Regions from separate parts of the Homo sapiens genome. Here regions 2 and 3 are each linked to region 1. Evidence: fine-mapped expression QTL. A gene starts in region 1. Each other region holds a variant in brackets. All regions are shown on one strand. Distances are between the middles of the regions.

Region 1 (2,676 bases):
AAGGTAACCAGGAGTACAATACAAATATTAATAATTCATACATTCAGGAGCACATACTGAGATAGTATTTGCTGCATGCCTATTCTTTGTTAAGTAGTATTGTAGATTCTGGAAATAAAGCAATGACGAAAAACAAATGAAACAGCAGAGAGGTGAAAACAAGCAGAGTATAAATAAACAATACTAGACTGTAGCTCAAGATCTCCAGGTAACCAATCACTTATATGACAGAGATGAATAGTCCTGCCTGCACAATTCTATAGAGAACGAATGAGCTGCTTAATTTTTTTAATTTAGAACTTTCAACAATTTTTGTGCAAATCATTTTACTTCAGTTTCCTTATGCATAAAATATGAATATTGCCTATATAACTGCATCCGTGAAATAGAATATGTTTAAGTACCCAGGCAGAGTATTTCACATATACTATGCAATAAATATATGGTAGACGCAGCTTTTACTATCCTAGACCAAGTACTACTTTTACTTTAAATCAATTTTAAAAAGAATTGGTTGAATGGTAAGCAGCAGGTTGATCTGGGGCCTGTGAGAGACGGAAGAATAGAGAGAGAGAAAGGGAGAGGGAGAGAGAAAGAGAGAGACTGACTTTCCATAGCTGAGAATCAGTTTGAAATTCACACCTGCTTTACCCCACACACAGTAATTATGCACAAATAGGACAAATGGATAGGAAGGACTATGACGGTACCAAAATAGTCCAACCCATGCCCACAGTAAATGTCCTTGGTAAAAATAAACGTACTACAACACCCAGAAGTCTCCCTTCATCCCCAATAAATGCCTCTCCTAAGTCGCCCTAGTAGAGAATGGAAAGGAAACCACAACCACCGCCACCACTAAGCTTCCTGGATCCTGCTAAAAGACCTGTCCCTCCAGCCTCTTCTGAATTGCATTCTCACCTTTCTCTGTCGGATCAGCTTGGCCAGCTGCATCCCCGAAAGCAGAAGCAATGGTTCAGTCACCGGCCGAGGGGTCTTTGAGGCAAACTTTGGACCCCCTAAGACTAAAGCTGCTCGGCCTACTAAGCCTATGAGAAAGCCTAGCGCCCGCAAGAGGAACAACTGAATGCGGGCGGTAAATGAAGGTGCCATCGCAGCCTGGATTCCGCACGGTCCTAGTGCTTGAGGGTTACGTGCACCCTGGGGAAAGGACGAGAAAAGTACTAAGCAAAGAGGGACTTATGAAGCTTTTCGTTTACAAGTCCAGTGTCTACCCACAATTCCACAGGAGCTTGTTTATCATCACCTGCAGGGCTCCTAGCCAGAGATGGGGGCGGAGACTTCCCAGCAGCTGCCTGTGTGCAATGCTACCTGTCGTTAGTGCTGTTGTAACCCAAGACAGAAAATGCGTCATAAGAAAGAACACTGGCCTTGGAATTCCCCAGTTCTGCTACTGTGTAGCCCTGGCCAACCTACACTATATCTCCTAGTCAGTTTACTCATAAGAAAAAAAATGGGAATAACTACTCCTATATCAAAGGGTTACCATAAACACTAGATAATAAGTAAAAACATTTAGCACAATTTATGGTAAATAGTATAAGTGGTAGTTGTTATAGTTTATTTCAGCTGTGCTTGTGAAAAAAGTGTTGTAAGTATACCTTTGTATGCAAATATTCAGTATGCTCAACAAACAACTAAATGGCAAGTATATATATATTTTCCATATGCATATTATTTAATCCTTATAAGATCACTAACAGGTAGTACTGATGAACATCAAATCTCCAGCCCATCTGTCTCCTAAACTGGACACTTGAAATGCCTTTTTTGACATATCCATGTGAATGTCTTCCAGATCGTTCAAACTCAACAAGTCCAAAACTCATCCTTTTGTCCCCCAGACTGCTGCCCCTACAGGTCTACAAATGGAATTTTCATCCACCCAGTCAGCCATGCCAAAAATCTAGAATCACTTCAGATTCTTCCATTTCTCTTATTCTCATGACAGAATCCAGCCCTTCCTTCTCAACTCAGTCTGGCTCAGATCTCACTGAGGTTTACATGAACTTCTACAAATAATCTAGCTGATCACTCTGCCTTTATTTATAGAGTGTTCTTTCTAATATGTAAATCTGACAATATTACACCCCTGCCAATAACTCCGCAATAATTCTCCATTTTCCACAGATTCAAGACCCATCTACTTTGTCCAGCATTCGACTCTCATGACTGGTGTCTGAAAAACTCTATGCTTCATCCCTAACCCCTTCTATCCCTCACATGCTAAGCTCCTGACAAACAACTATCCGAAAGTTCTCTCTTCCCTCCTTATCTTTGCATCTGCTTTCCCAACCTCTTCATCTAGTTCAGGACAAGTACCACCTCCTCCAGTAAGTCTTCCCTGAACTTACAACTGGGTGTGATGCCACTCTTTTGTAACCCTGCACTCCACAGATTAACAAAATCATAGCACTTACAACCCTCTGTTATGTGTTAGGTTTTTGTGTCTATGCCCCATCTAGATATAAACTCCTCGAAGAACAGGGTCATTCTAATTCCTCTTTGTATTGCCAGAGCCTGACATAGGGCTTGATGAGAAGTCAATACAGGTTTGTAGGCTGAAGGTATGTGATTATGAGATAATGAGCGTTGAAGATAGGGATTCGAGCTTGGCATTTAAGGTCTTGGGTAGGTGAAATGACAACGTCATCC
Region 2 (2,676 bases), 630 kb after region 1:
ACACCACATGTTCTCACTCATAAGTAGGAGTTGAACAATGAGAACACATGAACACAGAGAGGGGAACGTCACACACTGGGGCCTGTCATGGGGTGGTGGTCAAGAGGTGGGAGAGCATTAGGACAAATACCTAATGCATGTGGGGCTTAAAATCTAGATGGTGGGTTAATAGGTGCAGCAAACCACCATGACACATGTACACCTATGTAACAAACCTGCAATTTCTATACGTGTATCCTGGAACTTAAAGTAAAATAACAAAAGATCCTTTTTAGATAAGCAAATGTTGAGAATGCTTGTTACTACCAGAACAAACTGATCTTGAAAAGAGCACTGAATACAGAAAGGAAAGACCACTACCAGCTAAAACAAAAGCACACTTAAATATATAGACCAATGACACTGTAAAGCAAATACACAAAAAGTCAGCATGAAAACCAGCTAATGACACAATGACAGGATAAAACCCACACTTATCAATACTAACCTTGATGTAAACAGTAAGCCTTGATGTAAATGCCCCATTTAAAAATACAGTGAGAATCCAAGATGGCCAATTAGCTATGGTCTAGGGTACTCACAGAGAGAAATAAAAAGAGGCAAGTTAATTCAACACCTTCAACTGATATATTCTGGTTCTTGCATTGGGCCTGACTAGGCAAACAACTCAACCCACAGATAATGAAGAAAAGCAGAGGGAGCAATGGTCCATGGAGCCAAAGGAACCCCCATGCCCAACCAAGGGAAGCAGTGAGTGATTGTGTGACCCAGCCCAGGTAATTATGCTTCTCTCATGGATCTTAGCAACCCACAGATCAGGAGATACCATCACAAGCCCACATTACCAGGGCCTTGGGTGCAATACACAGAGCTGTGTAAAGTCTCAGTAGTGCAGCCACTCAGGCAAACACAAGGACCCAGGAATTTTACATATTCTTGCCCCAGAATCACTAGCAAAGTGAAAAATCCATCCATCCATATCCATAGAAAGTGGGCTGATTCTGGGGAGCCAAGAATCATCATTCTTCAGGCCCCACTTTACAGCACCTCACAAGTTAAGACCCTCTGATTTAGAATTCCAGCCAGCCAAAGGCAACAGGCTAGAATCTGCCTGAGACAGGTTTAAGTTCCCAGGGAGAGGGGCTGCAACCATTACTGTGGTTTGGTAGACTCAGATTTTCCAGCCTGCAGCTTTAGAGAATACAAATGGTCCAAAAGAGGAAGGGTCACTCAAAATGTAGCACAGCTTCCTTGTCAGATTATGGCCAGACTGCTTCCTTAAGCAGGACCTTGGTTCATTGCTGCTCACTGAGCAGGACCTCT[A/C]TGTGGGGGCTTCAGCCACTCTGGCCATGGTTCTATGTACAGAGCTCTGATCTCTCCCTGGGTAAGAGCTCACAGGGAGAGGAGCAGCTGCCATTTTTGCAATTCAGTTGACTTAGTTGTTCCAGTCGGCCAGCTTTGGAGAACATAAATGGTCAAGACAAGAAAGGGTACCCCGCAACACAGCACAACTGGACTACCATAGCAGCCAGACTACTTATTTAGGCAAGTCTCTGATCCATTTCCTCTTGACTAGGTAAGATTTCTGAACAGGGGTCTCCAGCCACTTCATACTGGTGCATTCAGGCCAGAAAAAATGTCAGTACCACACTGGGATGGAGATTCCAGATAAAGAAGCTGGCTGTCATCTTTGCAGTTTTGCAGACTTCACTGGTGATCCCTCCTGGAATGGGAAGGACTGAGGCAACTAGAATCTGAAGTGGACCTCCAGAAAACCACAGCAGTTCTCTGGTAGAGTGGCCTGACTGTGAAAAGGAAAACAAACAAACAGAAATAAACAACAACAATATAAATAAAAAAGACCCCACAAAAACCTCATCCAAAGGTCAGCAACTTCAAAGTTTGCAGGTAGATAAGCCCAGAAAGATGAGAAACAATCAACATAAAAATGCTGAAAACTCAAAAAGTCAGAATGCTCCCTTTTCTCCAAGTGACCACAACACCTCTGCAGCAAGGGCACAGAACTGGGCTGAGGTTGAGATGGCAGAATTGACAGAAGTAGGCTTCAGAAAGTAGATAATAACAAAGTTTTCTGAGTTAAAGGAGCATGTTGTAACCTAATGCAAATAAGCTAAGAATTATAATAAAATAACACAGGAGGTGATAGATGGAATAGCCAATTTTGAGAGAAACATAAATGACCTGATGGAGATGAAAAGCACAAGAACTTCACAATGCAATCTCAAGTATCACTAGTAGAAATGAGTATGCAAAGGAAAGAATGTTAGAGCTTGAGGATTATTTTTTGAAATGAGACAGGCAGACAACAATAAAAAAGAATGAAAATGTATGAACAAAACCTCTGAGAAACATGAGATTATGTAAAGAGAATGAACCTATGACTAATTGGGGTACTTGAAAGAGATGGGGAGAATGGAACCAAGTTGAAAAACATACTTTGGGAAATCATCCAGTAGAACTTCATCAACATAGGAAAACAGGCCAACATTCAAATTTAGGAAATGCTGAAAACCCCAGTAACATACTCCATGAGTAGATCAACACCAAGACACATAATCATCAGATTATACAAGGTCATAATAAAAGAAAAAATGTTAGGGGCACCAGAGAGAAAGGCCAGCTCACCTACAAAGGGAAACCCATCAGACTAACAGT
Region 3 (2,676 bases), 110 kb before region 1:
AAATAAAGGCGACATCCTGGTGGTTGCAACTGGTCGGCCTGAAATGGTTAAAGGGGAATGGATCAAACCTAGCAATAGTCATCAACTGTGGAATCAATTATGTCCCAGATGATAAAAAAAACAAATGGGAGAAAAGTTGTGGGTGATGTGGCATACGACGAGGCCCGTTCCTGGTGGCTTAGGGCTCATGACGGTTGCAATGCTCATGCAGAGCACTGTAGAGAGTGCCAAGCGTTTCCTGGAGAAATTTAAGCCAGGAAAGTGGATGATTCAGTATAACAACCTTAACCTCAAGACACCTGTTCCAAGTGACATTGATATATCACGATCTTGTAAACCGAAGCCCATTGGTAAGCTGGCTTGAGTAATTGGTCTGCTGTCTGAAGAGGTAGAATTATATGGTGAAACAAAGGCCAAAGTTCTGCTGTCAGCACTAGAACGCCTGAAGCACCAGCCTGTTGGGAAATATCAGGTGGTGACTGGAATAACTCCAACACCCCTGGGAGAAGGGAAAAGCACGACTACAATCGGGCTGGTGCAAGCCCTTCTTGCCCATCTTTACCAGAACTTTTTTATGTGTGTGCGACAGCCTTCTCAGGGCCCCACCTTTGGAATAAAAGGTGGTGTTGCAGGAGGCGGCTACTCCCAGGTCATTCCTATGGAAGAGTTTAATCTTCACCTCACAGGTGACATCCATGCCATCACTGTATCTAATAACCTTGTTGCTGCGGCTATTGATGCTCAGATATTTCATGAACTGACCCAGACAGACAAGGCTACCTTTACTCATTTGGTGCCATCAGTAAATGGAGTGAGAAAGTTCTCTGATATCCACATACAAAGGTTAAACAGACTAGGCATTGACAAGACTGACTCTACCACACTGACAGATGAAGAGATAAACAGATTTGCAAGATTGGACATTGATCCAGAAACCATAGCTTGGCAAAGAGTGTTGAATACCAATGATAGATTCCTGAGGAAGATCACGATTGGACAGGCTCCAACGAAGAAAAGTCACACACAGACGGTCCACTTTGATATCTCTGTGGCCAGTGAAATTATGGCTGTCCTGGCTCTCACCACTTCTCTAGAAGACAGGAGAGAGAGACTGGGCAAAATGGTGGTGGCATCCAGTAAGAAAGGAGACCCCGTCAGTGCTGAAGATCTGGGGGTGAGTGGTGCATTGATAGTGCTTATGAAGGACACAATCAAGCCCAATCTCATGCAGAGATTGGAGGGCACTCCAGTGTTTGTCCATGCAGGCCCATTTGCCATCATCGCACACGGCAATTCCTCTATCATTGCAGACCGGATCACACTCTAGCTTGTTGGCCCAGAAGGGTTTGTAGTGACGGAGGCGGGATTTGGAGCAGACATTGGAATAGAAAAGTTTCTTAACATCAAATCCCAGTATTCCGGTCT[C/T]CACCCTCACGTGGTGGTGCTTGTTGCCACTGTCAGCGCTCTAAAGATGCACAGGGGTGGCCCTATGGTCACTGCTGGAATGCCTCTTCCCAAGGCTTACATAGAGGAGAACCTGGAGCTGGTTGAAAAAGGCTTCAGTAACTTGAAGAAACAAACTGAAAATGCCAGAATGTTTGGAATTCCAGTAGTAGTGGCCGTGAATGCATTCAAGACAGATACAGAGACTGAGCTGGACCTCATCGGCTGCCTTTCCAGAGAACAGAGGGCTTTTGATGCCGTGAAGTGCACTCACTGGCAGAAGGGGGCAAGGGTACCTTAGCCCTGGCTCAGGCTGTCCAGAGAGCAGGACAAGCACCCAGCAGCTTCCAACTCCTTTATGACCTCAAGCTCCCAGTTGAGGATAAAATCAGGATCATTGCACAGAAGATCTATGGAGCAGACAACATTGAATTACTCCTCAAAGCTCAACACAAAGCTGAAGTCTACACAAAGCAGGGCTTTGGGAATCTCCCCATCTGCATGGCCAAAACACACTTGTCCTTGTCTCACAACCCAGAGCGAAAAGGTGTCCCTACAGGATTCATTCTGCCCATTCGCAACATCCATGCCAGCATCGGGGCTGGTTTTCTGTACCCTTTAGTAGGAACGATGAGCACAATGGACTCCCCACCCAGCCCTGTTTTTATGATACTGATTTGGACCCTGAAACAGAACAGGTGAATGGATCATTCTAAACAGATCATCATCCATCTTCAAGAAGCTACTTTGAAAATCTGGCCAGTGTCTATTCAGGCCCACTGGGAGTTAGGAAGTATAAGGCAGCCAAGAGTCAGCCCCTGCCCAGAAGATCTGAAACTAATAGTAGGAGTTTTCCCGGATGTCATTTTCAGCCTTAATTCTCATCGTGTATAAATTAACATAAATCATGCACATGTCTATTTACGTTAGTGACGTTCCACAGAATAAAAGGAAATAGTTTTGCCAAAAACAAAAAACAAACAAACAAAAAAAACAAGAACTGAAAAAAGACAAGGATCTCCACTCTCACCACTCCTATTCAACATAGTACTGGCAGTTCTAGCCAGAGGAAAGGGATCCAAATTTAAAAAGAAGTAGTCATGTTATCTCTGCTTGCTGATGACATACCTAGAAAACCTAGACTTTACATAAAATTCCTATATTTGATAAACAATTTTGGTAAAGTTTCAGGATACCAAATCAATGTAAATAAAGTCAGTAGCATTTCGATAC

Direction of the effects. Positions count from the first base shown, and alleles are read on the strand shown. Sizes are in standard deviations (SD) of each study's normalised expression.
As copies of A replace C in region 2, the expression in minor salivary gland of the gene that starts at base 1,233 in region 1 goes up (small effect, 0.34 SD a copy in GTEx).
For the expression in sun-exposed skin of the gene that starts at base 1,233 in region 1, C is the high allele of the variant in region 3 and T is the other (small effect, 0.32 SD a copy in GTEx).

Evidence for each region. PIP is the estimated chance that this variant, and not a neighbour inherited with it, causes the effect.
Region 2: its variant is fine-mapped to the expression of FAAH2 in minor salivary gland (GTEx, PIP above 0.99).
Region 3: its variant is fine-mapped to the expression of FAAH2 in sun-exposed skin (GTEx, PIP above 0.99). The same link has a PIP of 0.9 or more in cerebellar hemisphere, nasal epithelium, pituitary and unexposed skin.

Annotation. Positions count from the first base shown.
Region 1 is chrX:57,285,263-57,287,938 of GRCh38, reverse strand. It overlaps FAAH2 (fatty acid amide hydrolase 2), which reads right to left and starts at 1,233. Exons shown (of 11, transcript NM_174912.4): 1 at 922-1,233. The coding sequence starts at 1,113.
Region 2 is chrX:56,653,413-56,656,088 of GRCh38, reverse strand. No RefSeq gene overlaps it. Among named protein-coding and RNA genes, the nearest start is that of NBDY, 74 kb to the left of the region's middle. The variant A/C (reference allele first, on the strand shown) is at 1,324.
Region 3 is chrX:57,392,126-57,394,801 of GRCh38, reverse strand. All of the region lies in intron 7 of FAAH2 (fatty acid amide hydrolase 2), which reads right to left. It also overlaps the pseudogene MTHFD1P1. Among named protein-coding and RNA genes, the nearest start is that of FAAH2, 110 kb to the right of the region's middle. The variant C/T (reference allele first, on the strand shown) is at 1,426.